2 separate regions of the Homo sapiens genome follow, and region 1 is linked to region 2. Evidence: fine-mapped expression QTL. A gene starts in region 2. The other region holds a variant in brackets. All regions are shown on one strand. Distances are between the middles of the regions.

Region 1 (8,328 bases), 98 kb after region 2:
GAGTGCAGTGGTGCAATCTCCGCTCACTGCAACCTCTCCCTCCCGGGTTCAAGCGATTCTCCTGCCTCAGCTTTCTGAGTTGCTGGGATTACAAGCACCCGCCACCACAGCTGGCTAATTTTTGTACTTTTTTAAGTACAGACGGGGTTTCACCATGTTGGCCAGGCTGGTCTTGAACTCCTGACCTTTCAGGTGATCCACCCGCCTCGGCCTCCAAAGTGCTGTGATTACAGGCATGAGCCTCTGTGCCCAGCCACATTTTTAATTTTTATTTTGGCTTGTCACTGACTCGAAGCTCAAATCACTCTTGATTACGATAAATGAATGCCCAGCTAAGCAGATGGGTGGGCAGGTGGATGGATATGGTGGATGGATGGAAAGATGAATGGATGGACAGTTAGAGTAGTGAGTGAGTAGATGGGTGGGTGGACAGAGTAGTGAGTGAGTAGATGGATGGGTGAACAGTTAGAGTAGTGAGTGAGTAGATGGATGGGTGGACAGTTAGAGTAGTGAGTGAGTAGATGGATGGGTGACAGAGTAGTGAGTGAGTAGATGGATGGGTGAACAGTTAGAGTAGTGAGTGAGAAGATGGATGGGTGAACAGTTAGAGTAGTGAGTGAGTGGATGGATGGGTGGACAGTTAGAGTAGTGAGTGAGTAGATGGATGGGTGGACAGAGTAGTGAGTGAGAAGATGGATGTGTGGACAGTTAGAGTAGTGAGTGAGAAGATGGATGGGTGAACAGAGTAGTGAGTGAGTAGATGGATGGGTGAACAGTTACAGTAGTGAGTGAGAAGATGGATGGGTGAACAGTTAGAGTAGTGAGTGAGTGGATGGATGGGTGGACAGTTAGAGTAGTGAGTGAGTAGATGGATGGGTGGACAGAGTAGTGAGTGAGAAGATGGATGTGTGGACAGAGTAGTGAGTGAGAAGATGGATGGGTGAACAGTTAGAGTAGTGAGTGAGTAGATGGATGGGTGGACAGTTAGAGTAGTGAGTGAGTAGATGGATGGGTGGACAGTTAGAGTAGTGAGTGAGTAGATGGATGGGTGGACAGTTAGAGTAGTGAGTGAGTAGATGGATGGCTGGACAGTTAGAGTAGTGAGTGAGTAGATGGATGGGTGGACAGTTAGAGTAGTGAGTGAGTAGATGGATGGCTGGACAGTGACATGCAGAGGCAGGGGGGTAGAAAGATGGATAGGTGGCTGGGTGAGGATCGTCACGCCTGTAATCCCAGGACTTAGGGAGGCCGAGGTGGGCGGATCACGAGGTCAGGAGATCAAGACCATCCTGGCTAACACGGTGAAACCCGTCTCTACTGAAAATACAAAAAATTAGCTGGGCGTGGTAGCGGGCGCCTGTAGTCCCAGCTACTCGGGAGGCTGAGGCAGGAGAATGGCGTGAACCTGGGAGGCGGAGCTTGCAGTGAGCCGAGATAGCGCCACTGCACTCCAGCCTGGGCGACAGAGTGAGACTCTGTCTTAAAAAAAAAAAAAAAGAAAAAGAGAAAGATGGATAGGTGTAAGGATGGATAGATGGGTGGGTGGATGAATGAATGAATGAGTGAGGAAGTAGGTGAGTAGGTAGATGGGTGGGTTGGTGAATGTTTGTATGGTTGTATTGACGTATGGACACATGGATTAATAAGATATAGGGGGCTGGGCGTGGTGGCTCACACCTGTTATCCCAACACTTTGGGAGGCTGAGGGGGGTGGATCACCTGAAAGATCAGGAGTTTGAGACCAGCCTAGCCAACATGGTGAAACCCTATCTCTACCAAAAAATGCAAAAATTAGCCAGGCGTGGTGGCGCACACCTGTAGTCCCAGCTACTCGGGAGGCTGAGGTGGAAGAATCGCTTGAACCCAGGAGGGGGAGGCTGTAGTGAGCCGAGCTTACACCACTGCACTCCAGCCTGGGTGACAGAGTGAGACCCTGTCTCAAAAGAAAAAGAAAAAAACTGAATCTAACAACACCTCTAGTTAAAGTTTCCAATTTAACAAGAAATGCAGATGAAAGGGGAACAGAGACCTACAAGCAAATACAATGGGGAGACTGTTTAATTGTTAAAAACAAACAAACAAACAAACAAACAAAAAAACAGCCAATTGGCTGGGCACAGTAGCTCACACCTGTAATCTCAGCACTTTGGGAGGCCAACGTGTTCAGATCACTTGAGGCCAGAAGTTCAAGACCAGACTGGCCAACAGGGCGAAACCCTGTCTTTACTAAAAATACAAAAAAATTAGCTGGGCATGGTGGTCCACACCTGTAATCACAACTGCTCAGGAGGATGAGGCATGAGAATCGTTTGAACCCAGGAGGCAGAGGTTGTAGTGAGCCAACATCACACAACTGTACTCCAGCCTGGGTGACAAAGCAAGACTCTGTCTCTAAAAACAAAACCAAACCAAAACAGCCCATTGGAGAAATCTGAACATAGACTGGACATCATATGATATTAAGGGGTTACATCATATGATATTAAGGACATCATATGATATTAATGTTGTTACGTGTAATAATCACTTTGGTTACAGTTTCTTCAGTGCTTATATGTTAGAGATATGTACTGCAATATTTACAAGCATAAAGATGCAGTGTCTAGGATTTGCTCTGATATATTCTGGAAAAAAATAGGGAAGTGGCTGGGCACGGTGGCTCACGCCTGTAATCCCAGCACTTTGGGAGGCCGAGGCAGGTGGATCACCTGAGGTCAGGAGTTTGAGACCAGCCTGGCCAACATGGCGAAACCCTGTCTCTACTAAAAATACAAAAATTAGCCGCTTGTGGCGGTGCGTGCCTGTAATCCCAGCTATTCAGGAGGCTGAGGCAGAAAACTGATTGAACCCTGGGGGGGGGGGGGGGGCGGGCGGGGCGGAGCTTGCGGTGACCCAAGATGGTGCCACTGCACTCCAGCCTGGGCGACAGAGCGAGACTCTGTCTCAAAAACAAACAAACAAACAAAAAAGAAACAGGGAAGTACATGTGAAATTAAACTGGCCCTGGGCGCGGTGGCTCATGCCTGTAATCCCAGCACTTTGGGAGGCCGAGGCGGGCGGATCACGAGGTCAGGAGATTGAGACCATCCTGGTGAACACCGTGAAACCCTGTCTCTACTAAAAATACAAAAAAAATAGCCAGGCGTGGTGGCGGTCACTTGTAGTCCCAGCTACTCCGGAGACTTAGGCAGGAGAATGGCATGAACCCAGGAGGCGGAGCTTGCCGTGAGCAGAGATTGCGCCACTGCACTCCAGCCTGGGCGACAGAGCGAGACTCCATCTCAAAGAAAAAAAAAAAAAGAAATTAAACTGGCAGCATGTTAACAATTATTGAAGCTGGGTGAAGATACCTGAGATGTCATCAAACTATTTTCACTTTTTTTTTTTTTTTTTTTTGAGACAGAGTCTCGCTTTTTGCACAGGCTGGAATGCAATGGCTAGATCTCGGCTCACTGCAACCCCTGCGCCCCGGGTTCAAGCGATTCTCCTGCCTCAGCCTCCCTGGTAGCTGGAAATACAGGCGCCCACCACCATACCCAGCTAATTTTGTATTTTCAGTAGAGACAGGGTTTCACCATGTTGGCCAGGCTGGTCTCAAACTCCTGACTTCAGGTGTTCCGCCGGCCTCAGCCTCCCAAAGTGCTGGGATTACAGGCGTGAGCCACCATGCCCCGGTAATTTTTGTATTTTAGGTAGAGACGGATTTTGCCATGTTAGCCAGGCTGATCTTGAACTCCTGACCTCAGGTGATCCACCAGACTCATCCTCCCAAAGTGCTGGGATTACAGGCGTAAACCACTGGGCACAGCCTAAACTTTTCATAATTAAAAAAACAATTTGGCCGGGCGCAGTGGCTCACGCCTGTAATCCCAGCACTTTGCGAGGCTGAGGTGGGCGGATCACCTGAGGTCGGGAGTTTGAGACAAGCCTGACCAACATGGAGAAACCCCATCTCTACTAAAAACATAAAAAAAAATTAGCCGGTCGTGAGGGCACATGCCTGTAATCCCAGCTACTTGGGATGCTGAGGCAGGAGAATCGCTTGAACCCAGGAGGCAGAGGTTGCAGTGAGCCGACATCGCGCCATTGCATTCCATCCTGGGCAACAATAGTGAAACCCCGACTCAAAAAAAAAAAAAAAAACATTTGGCCGGGCACGGTAGTTCACACCTGTAATCCCAGCACTTTGGGAGGCCGAGGCGGGCGGATCACGAGGTCAGGAGTTCGAGACCAGCCTGGCCAACATGGTTAAACCCTGTCTCTACTAAAAATACAAAAGTTAGCCAGGCACGGTGGTGGGAGCCTGTAATAACAGCTACTAGGGAGG[C/G]TGAGGCAGGAGAATCGCTCACAAGTGCTCACCACCATGCCTGGCTTTTTTTTTTTTTTAACAGATGGACTCTCACTATGTTGCCCAGGCTGGTGTTGAACTCCTGGGCTCAAGTGATCCTCCTGCCTTGGTACCCCAAAGTGCAGGGATTATAGGCATGAGGAACCACACCTGGCCATGATAAAAGTTTGAAAACAAACAGACGCCAGGCGCGGTGGTTCACGCCTGTAATCCCAGCACTTTGGGAGGCCGAGGTAGGTGGATCACCTGAGGTCAGGAGTTCGAGACCAGCCTGGCCAACATGGCAAAACCCCGTCTCTACTAAGAATACAAACATTAGCCAGGTGTGGAGGCGCATGCCTGTAATCCCAGCTACTCAGGAGGCTCAGCCTCAGCAGAGAATTGCTTGAACCCGGGAGGCAGAGGTTGTGGTGATCTGAGATGGTGCCACTGCACTCCAGCCTGGGTGACAGAGCGAGACTGTGTCTCAAAAACAAACAAAAAAGAAACAGAGAAGTATATGCGAAATTAAACTGGCAACATGTTAACAATTATTGATGCTGGGCGAAGATACATGAGATGTCATCAAACTATTTTCACTTTTTTTTTTTTTTTGCAAGGGAGTTTCACTCTTTTTGCAACCCCCGCCTCCCAGGTTGAAGCGATTTTCCTGCCTCAGCCTCCCGAGTAGCTGGAAACACAGGCTCGCATCACCACGCCCAGCTAATTTTGTATTTTCAGTACAGACAGGGTTTTACCATGTTGGCCAGGCTGGTCTCAAACTCCTGATTTCAGGTGATCCAGTGGCCTCAGCTTCCCAAAGTGCTGGGATTACAGGCGTGAGCCACCATGACTGGCTAATTTTTGTATTTTAAGTAGAGACAGATTTCACTATGTTGACCAGGCTTGTCTTGAACTCCTGACCTCAGGTGATCCACCCGCCTCAGCCTCCCAAAGTGCTGGGATTACAGGCGTGAACCACCGGGCACAGCTAAACTTTTCATAATTAAAAAAAAAAGAAAAATTTGGCCGGGCGCGGTGGCTCATGCCTGTAATCCCAGCACTTTGGGAGGCTGAGGTGGGTGGATCATGAGGTCAGGTGTTGGAGACCAGCCTGGCCAACATGGTGAGACCCCACCTATACTAAAAATTCAAAAATTAGCCGGGCATAGTGGTGGGCACCTGTAATAACAGCTACTCGGGATGCTGAGGCAGAAGAATCGCTCACAAGTGCTCACCACTGTTGCGGGAAGTCAGGGACCCCTAACAGACGGACCGGCTGGAGCCACGGCAGAGGAACATAAATTGTGAAGATAACATGGACATTTATCACTTCCCAAATAATACTCTTATAATTTCTTACGCCTGTCTTACTTTCATCTCTTAATCCTGTTATCTTCATAAGCTGAGGATGTACGTCACCTCAGGACCCTGTGATAATTGTGTTAACTGTACAAATTGATTGTAAAATGTGTGTTTGAACAATGTGAAATCAGCGCACATTGAAAAAGAACAGAATGAGAGTGATTTTAGGGAACAAGGGAAGACAACCCTAAGGTCTGACTGCCTGCGGGGCTGGGCAAAAAGAGCCATATTTTTCTTCTTGCAGAGAGCCTATAAGTGGACGTGCAAGTAGGAGAGATATTGCTAAATTATTTTCCTAGCAAGGAATATTAACATTAAGACCCTGGGAAAGGAATTCATTCCTGGGGGGAGGTCTATAAATGGCCGCTCTGGGAATGTCTGTCCTATGCAGTTGAGATAAGGACTGAGATGCACCCTGGTCTCCTGCAGTACCCTCAGGCTTACTAGGGTGGGGAAAAACCCCGCCCTGGTAAATTTGAGGTCAGACCAGTTCTCTGCTCTTGAACCCTGTTTTCTGTTGTTTAAGATGTTTATCAAGACAATATGTGCACCACTGAACATAGACCCTTATCAGTTCTGCTTTTGCCCTTTGCCTTGTGATCTTTGTTGGACCCTGATCAGTAGTTCCGTTTTTTGCCCTTTGAAGCATGTGATCTTTGTACCTATTCTCGGTTCTTACACCCCCTTCCCTTCTGAAATCCTTAATAAAACTTGCTGGCTTTGAGCTCAGGTGGGCATCATGGTCCTACCGATATGTGATGTCACCCCCGGAGGCCCAGCTGTCAAATTCCTCTCTTTGTACTCTTTCTCTTTATTTCTCAGCTGGCCAGCACTTACGGAAAATAGAAAGAACCTACATCGAGGCCGGGCACAGTGGCTCACACCTGTAATCCCAGCACTTTGGGAGGCCGAGGTGGGAGGATCATGAGGTCAGGAGATTGAGACCATCCTGGCTAAATGTGAAACCCCATCTCTACTAAAAATACAAAAAATTAGCCGGGCGCGGTGGCAGGCGCCTGTAGTCCCAGCTACTGGGGAGGCTGAGGCAGGAGAATGGCATGAACCCAGGAGGCAGAGCTTGCAGTGAGCTGAGATCGCACCACTGCACTCCAGCCTGGGCGACAGAGCGAGACTCCATCTCAAAAAAAAAAAAAAAAAGAACCTACATTGAAATATTAGGGGCAGGTTCCCCCGATACCACCATGCGTGGCTTTTTAAAATTTTTTTTTAACAGATGGCCTCTTACTATGTTGCCCACGCTGGTGTTGAACTCCTGGACTCAAGTGATCCTCCTGCCTTGGCACCCAAAGTGCAGGGATTATAGGCATGAGCAACCACACATGGCCATGATAATAGCTGGAAAACACAAAAAGGCCGGGCGTGGTGGGTCACACCTGTAATCCCAGCGCTTTGGGAGGCAAATGCCCGCAAATGTGGGCAGATCACAAGGTCAGGAGTTTGAGACCAGCCTGACCAACATGGTGAAACCTAGTCTCTAGTAAAAATACAAAAATTAGCTGGGCGTGGTGGTGCGTGCCTGTAATCCCAGCTACTCAGGAGGCTGAGGCAGGAAAATCGCTTGAACCTGGAAGGCGGAGCTTGCAGTGAGCCGAGATCATGCCACCGCACTCCAGCCTGGGCGACAGAGCGAGACTCTGTCTCAAAAAAAAAAAGAGAGAGAGAGAGAAAATAGCCAGGTGCGGTGGCTCACACCTGTAATCTCAGCACTTTGGGAGGCCAAGGCAGGTGGATCACGAGGTCAGGAGTTCAAGACCAGCCTGGCCAAGATGGTGAAATCCCGTCTCTACTAAAACTACAAAAATTAGCCGGGCGTGGTGGTGGGCGCCTGTAATCCCAGTTACTCAGGAGGATGAGGCAGGAGAATTGCTTGAACCCAGGAGGCAGAGGTTGCAGTGAGCCAAGATCATGCCTCTGCACTCCAGCCTGGGTGACAAAGCAAGACTCTGTCTCGAAAAAAAATAAATAAATAAAAATTAAAATAAAAAAAAAAGAGAGAAAACAAAAAGAACAAGCTATGGAGAGGTCCCCATCTAGACTCTGAATCAAGAGTCCAGAGAGACAGCCCTGTGGAGTGCTTGAGAGCACTCCTACTCCAGCTGCCCTTGGGGCCATGTCACAAATCTGGGCCAGCATCCCCATCATCTCCTGAGCACCACACCTTCCTTGGATGCCTGTGACCATCACTCGTATCAGGTCTTGTCACCTCCTGACCAAAGCATGGCCATCAGGGACTGTGTGGGTGTCCAAGCTTCTGTCCATGCGGCCCTGGTAGTCATTGGTGGGTGTCCCTTCTCAAAAGTGAGAACACAGGGTGCTGGGTAACCTATGGTGTCTTTTTGCCTTGACAGCCCCACGCCGACACTTACTCCCGTGGTCCTGTAGACTGGAGGGATCCTCAGAAGTGGGCTTACCGAGATCTAAGCAGCCGAGGATCCCAACGACAAGTCCCATCACGTGGTACAGAGGCAGGACCGTGTAAACCACATCATCAGCTGTGGCCCCAGATAAGGACAGCATCTTGCTCATCTGCAGTACCCGCTCATGCGTGAGGATGGCTGGCTTCGGGAGGCCTTGGGATGAAGGCATGGCAAGGGCAGGGTGGTGACATGACAGCA
Region 2 (8,328 bases):
TTTTGTACTATATTGTAATGGTGGATACATGAATTTATGCATTTGTGAAAACCCATATAATGTACATTAATAATAATGTACTAATATTCATTTTACAATGTTAACAAATGGGCCGGGTGCGGTAGCTCATGCCTGTAATCCCAGCATTTTGGGAGGCTGAGCGGGGCGGATCACGAGGTCAGGAGATGGAGACCATCCTGGCCAAAATGGTGAAACCCCAACTCTACTAAAAATACAAAAATTAGCCGGGTGTGGTGGCACGCGCTTGTCGTCCCAGCTATTCGTGAGGCTGAGACAGAATTGCTTGAACCCGGGAGGCGGAGGTTACTGTGAGATCGTGGCACTGCACTCCAGCCTGGGTGTCAGAGCAACTCCGTCTCAAAAAAAAAAAAAAAAAAGAAGAAACTAAAATGAGGTCCAATGAAGTAGTGCCAGGAAAAACATAAATGAACTAACTATTAAGCCCAGGAAAGGTAAGTGGTTAAGAGAGAACTTTGGTCTGAGACTTCCTGGAATCAAACTGTAGCACTGCCTCCCACTGGCTTTATGACTCAGGGCAAATACTTAGCCTATGGGAGACTCAGGCCCTGGACCCTCTACTCCTCTGCTCCACCCGTGGGAGAGATCAGGCCCATCTCACAGAGGAACAGATTTTTTTTTTTTCTTTTTTTTTTATTGATCATTCTTGGGTGTTTCTCGTAGAGGGGGATTTGGCAGGGTCACAGGACAATAGGGGAGGGAAGGTCAGCAGATAAACAAGTGAACAAAGGTCTCTGGTTTTCCTAGGCAGAGGACCCTGCGGCCTTCCGCAGTGTTTGTGTCCCTGGGTACTTGAGATTAGGGAGTGGTGATGACTCTTAAGGAGCATGCTGCCTTCAAGCATCTGTTTAACAAAGCACATCTTGCACCGCCCTTAATCCATTCAACCCTGAGTGGATACAGCACATGTTTCAGAGAGCACAGGGTTGGGGGTAAGGTCACAGATCAACAGGATCCCAAGGCAGAAGAATTTTTCTTAGTACAGAACAAAATGAAAAGTCTCCCACGTCTACCTCTTTCTACACAGACACGGCAACCATCCGATTTCTCAATCTTTTCCCCATCTTTCCCCCCTTTCTATTCCACAAAACCGCCATTGTCATCATGGCCCGTTCTCAACGAGCTGTTGGGTACACCTCCCAGATGGGGTGGTGGCCGGGCAGAGGGGCTCCTCATTTCCCAGTAGGGGCGGCCGGGCAGAGGCGCCCCTCACCTCCCGGACAGGGCGGCTCGCCAGGCGGGGGGCTGACCCCCCCCCCCACCTCCCTCCTGGACGGGGCGGCTGGCCAGGCAGAGGGGCTCCTCACTTCCCAGTAGGGGCGGCCGGGCAGAGGCGCCCCTCACCTCCCGGACGGGGTGGCTGGCCAGGCGGGGGGCTGACCCCCCCACCTCCCTCCCGGACAGGGCGGCTGGCAGGGCGGGGGGCTGACCCCCCCACCTCCCTCCCAGATGGGGCGGCTGGCCGGGCAGAGGGGCTCCTCACTTCCCAGTAGGGGCGGCCGGGCAGAGGCGCCCCGCACCTCCCGGACGGGGCGGCTGGCCGGGCAGGGGGCTGACCCCCCCACCTCCCTCCCGGACGGGTCGGCTGGCCGCGCGGGGGGCTGACCCCCCCACCTCCCTTCCGGACAGGGCGGCTGGCCGGGCGGGGGGCTGACCCCCCCACCTCCCTCCCGGACGGAGCGGCTGGCCGGGCAGAAGGGCTCCTCACTTCCCAGTAGGGGCGGCCGGGCAGAGGCGCCCCTCATCTCCCGGACAGGGCGGCTGGCCGGGTGGGGGACTGATCCCCCCACCTCCCTCCCGGACGGGGCGGCTGGCCGGGCGGGGGGCTGACCCCCCCACCTCCCTCCCGGACGAGGTGGCTGCTGGGCGGAGAGGCTCCTCACTTCTCAGACGGGGCGGCTGCCGGGCGGAGATGCTCCTCACTTCCCAGACGGGGTGGCTGCTGGGCGGAGGGGCTCCTCACTTCTCAGACGGGGCGGCTGCCGGGCGGAGGGGCTCCTCACTTCTCAGACGGGGCAGTTGCCAGGCAGAGGGTCTCCTCACTTCTCAGACGGGGCGGCCGGGCAGAGACGCTCCTCACATCCCGGACGGGGCGGCAGGGCAGAGATGCTCCCCACATCTCAGACGATGGGCGGCCGGGCAGAGACGCTCCTCACTTCCCAGATGTGATGGCGGCCGGGAAGAGGCGCTCCTCACTTCCTAGATGGGATGGCGGCCGGGCAGAGACGCTCCTCACTTTCCAGACTGGGCAGCCAGGCAGAGGGGCTCCTCACATCCCAGATGATGGGCGGCCAGGCGGAGACGCTCCTCACTTCCCAGACGGGGTGGCCGCCGGGCAGAGGCTGCAATCTCGGCACTTTGGGAGGCCAAGGCGGGTTGCTGGGAGGTGGAGGTTGTAGCGAGCCGAGATCACGCCACTGCACTCCAGCCTGGACACCATTGAGCACTGAATGAACGAGACTCCGTCTGCAATCCCGGCACCTCGGGAGGCCGAGGCTGGCGGATCACTCGTGGTTAGGAGCTGGAGACCAGCCCGGCCAACACAGCGAAACCCCGTCTCCACCAAAAAAAATACGAAAACCAGTCAGGCGTGGCGGCACGCGCCTGCAATCGCAGGCACTCGGCAGGCTGAGGCAAGAGAATCAGGCAGGGAGGTTGCAGTGAGCCGAGATGGCAGCAGTACCGTCCAGCTTCGGCTCGGCATCAGAGGGAGACCGTGGAAAGAGCGGGGGGGGGGGGAGGGGGAGGGGGAGGAGGGAAGAGGAACAGATTTTCAAGAACGATTTGAGGATATGTATTAGCCCAGGACATGTTATGGGATGACCAGTGTCTTCAAACTAGGCAGAAAGAGGGGACAGGGTACAGGAGTCAGGGGAAGTAGGCGAAAAGGTGGACTGTTTAGTAGGGGATCAGGAACATAGAAAAGTGGCAAGGCTAGTGACCTTGGTACCCAGACACCAGGGGTATAACTCAGGTACCAGGTGTGAGAACAGCTCAATTCCAGGGATACTTCCATCCCCAGCTTGCAATCTCCATGGCTGAGCCTCTTTGATAACTTTTGTGCTATTCCTGGTTTCAAGTCTACCTGGTCCATCAATCAGTGCTCTTGTCTGCACTCCAGTTGGGGGAACTCATGAACTGTAAAGGGCAATCCTGTGGGGGAATGAACAGGTTGGTCAGTCCAGCCTAGGGCAGACTGACCCACCATGACAGTCCAGGGGTACTGATGACAGGCATGTACCATGAGCTTGGGGGTGTCCCACCTGTGTCTCCACTGGAGAGAATACACAGGTGTCACTGAGGAACAGGGTTGCAAGGACTGAGGATATGGGGTCAGCTGAGGACATGTTAAGGAGAGGCAAACATTGCACAGCTAGGCACTAAGGAGAGAGAAAGGGACACAGCGGGGCATGGCCAGAAAACTGGAATTGAGCTGAGTGGAGGCACCAAGACCTGCGAGGGCACAGGCTGGGCACCAGGTGTGAGAACAGCCCACTCCTGGGGGCATTCACCAGGGGTAGATCTCTTCAGGGTCCCTCTGCCACAACTAGTTTTGAGTTCATATGGTCCACCTGCTGGTGGGAATGTAGAAGCCTTCAGACCTATGAAGGATGATGAGTTTTTGAGAGTCCAGGCCAGGAGAGGCCAAAACACCATGACCCCAGCAAGCGAGAATAATCCTTACTCCAAGACAAACACAGACCTGCAAAAAATGAACATTCAGGGAAGGCTCCCAGGCAGGACCCAGTGGGCCCACACGCACCCATGTCAGTGCATGCAGTGCCTGGAATCTTACAGGAAGTGACCGAGCTGAACGTGACCAGCTGTGAAGATTCAGAGACTTCTGAGCCCCGATCTTGGCCACTCACGGCCCTTGGGTAGAATGTGTGGGGTGTCCACTCAGCCACTTGTTAGAGGAGGTGGCATGATCTGGGCCTCAGTGCCACGACCAACAGCGACTTCCAAGGGGAACATGGAAAGAACAGAGGAAAAAAACCAGAGTTGAGGCTGGGGAGAGTTATGGTGCCAGTGGTCTCACCCAGCACTGAGTGCAAAGTTCTCCAGCACCACTTCAGGTAGAAGCTCCTCTGGACCTTGCCTAAGAACTCCGTTCGTCCGGGAGGACGCAGGCCCACCTGCTCTAACATGAACGCGTCTGAATTCAGCGGAGGACACCCAGGAGCCCGGTTATTCTCCTGCCAGCGTCCTCCCCTGATGTGTCCCTGACCCCGTGCTCTGACGTACTCAGCCATGTACTCACTCTCCTCTCCCAGGCCCCCATACCTGAGATCACCATGGCCTGATATGGGGTAGACTACAAGCCTACCGTGCCTCAGCCATGTGCAGGGCGACCTGTCCCTGGCATCCACACCTGTGGCCCATACGTCGCCCGCATTGTGGGGCGCCGAAAACCCAACACAACTGAAACACAACTGCTGACCTTCCCCCTAAGCCGCCTCTAAACGAGGTCCCTCGGCCCCTGGTCCCAGCCGCTCTTTGAAGACTTGCCTGATGACAGGCATGTACCATGTTTTTGGCTGGGACATTTTTCTGAGCCTTGCTCCGGGCTCCGTAAAGCGGACACGGTGCCAGGGAGAGAATTTCGGGGCGGTTGCGGGCACAGGCGGGCTTCTGCGGAGGCCCTGGCGAACGCCCCCGCGCGGCGCGGTCCGATGGCCCCATGGGGCCGCCCCTCCACTGTGAGGTCACCGGGGTTCAGCAACATTCACTGCGGCTAGGACGCGTACAGGTCACTGAGGCAGAACTTCCCGATTCTCGCGCCTTCGTTCGTTTCTGCGGACCAGCGGAGACTCCTCCACACCGCCCACCGCCCAATGATCCCACTGCCGCAAACCGCCCCAAAGCCAGCGCCGAAAGCCGACGCCGGAAGCCCCGCCCCACGCAGGGCCCGCCCGAACGTTCCCGTTCCTGGGCCGCCATTGGCCAAGTCTGAACGGCCCCACGTCGAGGCTCCTTATGGGAAATGTAGTTCACGTCCCGCTTCAGGAGCTAGCGGCGCCCTCCCTTATCGCCTTGGCAACGACCCAGCCGCGCCGCGAGGAGAGCCGGGAATGGAGGTCGTGGCGTGAGGGGCGCCGAGCGAGGGGAGGCGCGGGCCACGGGAGTTCCGGGAGTTCCGGCGTTGCCCGGCAGTCCGCAGTCCTCGGCGGGAAGGCTGTCCCGGCGCCTCAGGCAGCTCTGCGTGGGCCGGGGTGACTTCCTCGCGATCCCCTGCGCGAGGTGAAGGGCAGGGACCTTTGCCGCGCCTTCCACGCGCCGTGCCCCACCGGCGAGTGGCTCCATCTTCCTCAGACTTATCGCTCGCGGACAGGCGCCGTGGGTCTCCCGGGCCTCCGTACCGTCCTCCTTCCCAGCGGCTCCGGGAAGCGGTTCCCTGTCTTCGGACGCATTTCACCCGCGCGGGGAGAGCTTCCCGGGAAGGTTCCACGGCGGCCGAGGGTTTCCGCGCCCGGGACGCGTTTCGGCTGAGGCCGTGGGTCCAGTCCACGGGTTCTGCCCGCACGGTCCAATGGCCGGGGAGGCGGAGGTGAGCAGAGGATGCCTCCGAGGAATGAGGGGGCCCACCAGGTGGGGGGCGGCGTGTGCCAGGGCAGAGTTGGAGGAGGGCAGGAGATCTGCGTATGATTCCAGGGGGAGGTCTTTGATGCACGGCTGGGGCATGCCCTTGGCAGTGGGAGCCATTGGAGATGTGCCGCAGGACTGGGACAGGATGGGGTCGTAGTTGCTGTGCCAGGCCCTCTGGAGACGCATGTGCAGAACGGCGTGTGGAAGGCCAGGCAATTGCCTATAGGGTAAACTGGGGACGTTGTGCTGGGGGTGTACAGTTTTAGGCATTCTGTTGTCCAGTTTTGTGCCTGTTGAGCAGGAGGCAAACTGGACCCTGGGACCAGGTACTTGAGACCTAAGGGAGAAGGATGAGCATAGGTTTGGTTGCGTCTGAGAGGTATGATCTCTGGGACTGGAATTGGCAGGCAGGAGATAGAGTGGAGCCTGTGCCCTTGGCCCTGCACATAGATGGCATCAGTCTGGTCACCAACCTGATGTCGCTTTGGGCTGGACACAGTTTCCAGTAGTAACACCAGAAGCATCAATAACACCAGCAGCTCTGATATTCCTCTGGGATAGGAGAAGGAAGGTATAAGGGTATGTGTAGGGAGTAAGGTGGGGAAGAGTTTAGAGCTCATAGGGAAAGATAATGTCAGGGGGAGATGTGATAGGACCCTGAGATACAGGTCAAGGGCCTGAATGTGTCCATCTGTCCATATTTTGGTTGTTTTTTTCTGCCCATCATTGACCCCAAGGCTCAGTTGGACCCATCATTGCAGGGCTTGGTGATGTTTGAGGATGTGACGGTATATTTCTCCAGGGAGGAGTGGGGGCTCCTTAATGTGACCCAGAAGGGCCTATACCGGGATGTGATGCTGGAGAACTTTGCACTCGTTAGCTCACTGGGTAAGTCTCTTACACTGTCCCCCAGCACACTGACTACCCCCTCATTTTCCCCATGCGAAGTTCTGTCCATAACGAAGCCAGACCATGGGGGCTCTTTCCTTCCCAGATTCCCTGTTGTAGGTATTGTGGGTGGTGGGACTCGGTGGTGGGACTCGGCGGTGTGCTCTTTCCCTGCCTTTCTCTGAGCAATGCTGTTGGCAGCCTCAACACCTCTTGCCCCAGGAGCTAGTGGAGCAGGTTTTGGGGGTCAGATGTTTCATAGTTTGCCCACCAAATCCCACCAAGCTCTGCCTTTTCCTGGCCATGTGACTCTCTTGAAGACATGGCTTCTCTGTGCTCTGGGTTTTGCCTCCCTACAAAAGAAATTTTACAGGGACCTCCCTGGGCCAGGCTTGAGCCATGAATTTTAATCAGAACGGTTTGGGAAATATATATATATATATATATATATATATATATATATATATGTGTATATATATATGTATATATATGTATATATATGTATATATATGTATATATATGTGTATATATGTGTATATATGTGTATATATATGTGTATATATGTGTATATATGTATATATGTGTATATATATGTATATATGTATATATATATGTATATATGTGTATATATATATGTATATATATATATGTGTGTATATATATATATATATGTATATATATATATAATTTTTTTTTTTTTTTTTTTTTTTTTTTTTTTGAGACAGAGCCTCACTCTGTTGCCCAGGCTGGAGTGCAGTGGCGCAATCTCGGCTCACCACAACCTCTGCCTCCAGGGTTCAAGCGATTCTCCTGCCTCAGTCTCCCGAGTAGCTGGGACTACAGGCTCGCGCCACCATGCCTGGCTAATTTTTGTATTTTTAGTAGAGACAGGGTTTCACTTTGTTGGCCAGGCTGGTCTTGAACTCCGGACCTCATGATCTGCCTGCCTTGGCCTCTCAAAGTGCTGGGATTACAGGCGTGAGCCACTGCGCCTGGCCACAAAGGTACTTCTTTCGTTAAATTTATTCCTAAGTACTTTATTCTTCACTGTTAAGTATGGTGTTAGCTGTTGGTTTTTTGCAGATGCCCATTTCAGGTGAGGAAGTTCCCTTCTCTTTCTAGTTCATTTAATGTGTTTATTAAGAAAAGTCATGGCCAGGTGCAGTGGCTCATGCCTGTAATTTCAGCATTTTGGGAGGGCGAGGCAGGTGGATTACCTGAGGTCAGGAGTTCAAGACCAGCGTGGTCAACATGGTGAAACCCCATCTCTACTAAAAATAGAAAACTAGCCAGGTGTGGTGGCACATGCCTGTAATCCCAGCTACTAGGGAAGCTGAGGCAGGAGAATCGCTTGAACCTGGGAGGTGGAGGTTGCAGTGAGCTGAGATCGCACCATTGCACTCCAGCCTGGGCAACAAGAGTGAAACTACGTCTCAAAAAAAAAAAAGAAAAGAAAGGTCACTAGATTTTGTCAAATGCTTTTCCAATGTCTAATGAAATGATCATGTGATTTTTGTCCTCTCTTCTGTTAATGTAGTATATTAGAATAATTGATTGCCTTTTCTTTTTTTGAGACGGAGTCTTGTTCTGTCGCCAGGCTGGAGTGCAGTGGCGCGATCTCGGCTCACTGCAACCTCCACCTCCCGGGTTCAAGTGATTTTCCTGCCTCAGCCTCCCAAGTAGCTGGGACTATAGGCGTGCACCACCACGCCCAGCTAATTTTTGTATTTTTCGTAGAGATGGGGTTTCACCATGTTTGCAAGGATGGTCTTGATCTCTTGACCTCGTGATCTGCCCCCGTCGGCCTCCCAACAC

What was found. PIP is the estimated chance that this variant, and not a neighbour inherited with it, causes the effect. A credible set is the group of variants that fine-mapping cannot tell apart.
Region 1: its variant is the best candidate, but not a certain one, in a credible set for the expression of ZNF584 in fibroblasts (GTEx, PIP 0.56).

What each region holds. Positions count from the first base shown.
Region 1 is chr19:58,501,723-58,510,050 of GRCh38, forward strand. It overlaps SLC27A5 (solute carrier family 27 member 5), which reads right to left. Exons shown (of 10, transcript NM_012254.3): 3 at 8,125-8,283. LOC105372485 (a long non-coding RNA gene) reads left to right here. Exons shown (of 2, transcript XR_001754024.2): 2 at 8,062-8,328. Among named protein-coding and RNA genes, the nearest start is that of SLC27A5, 6.1 kb to the right of the region's middle. RefSeq lists a silencer at 4,878-5,091. The variant C/G (reference allele first, on the strand shown) is at 4,328.
Region 2 is chr19:58,403,579-58,411,906 of GRCh38, forward strand. ZNF584 (zinc finger protein 584) reads left to right here and starts at 5,071. Exons shown (of 4, transcript NM_173548.3): 1 at 5,071-5,587; 2 at 6,363-6,513. The coding sequence starts at 5,570. ZNF584-DT (ZNF584 divergent transcript) reads right to left here and starts at 4,885. Exons shown (of 1, transcript NR_186337.1): 1 at 1-4,885. RefSeq lists enhancers at 4,230-4,279, 4,258-4,903, 4,830-4,879 and a silencer at 5,140-5,199.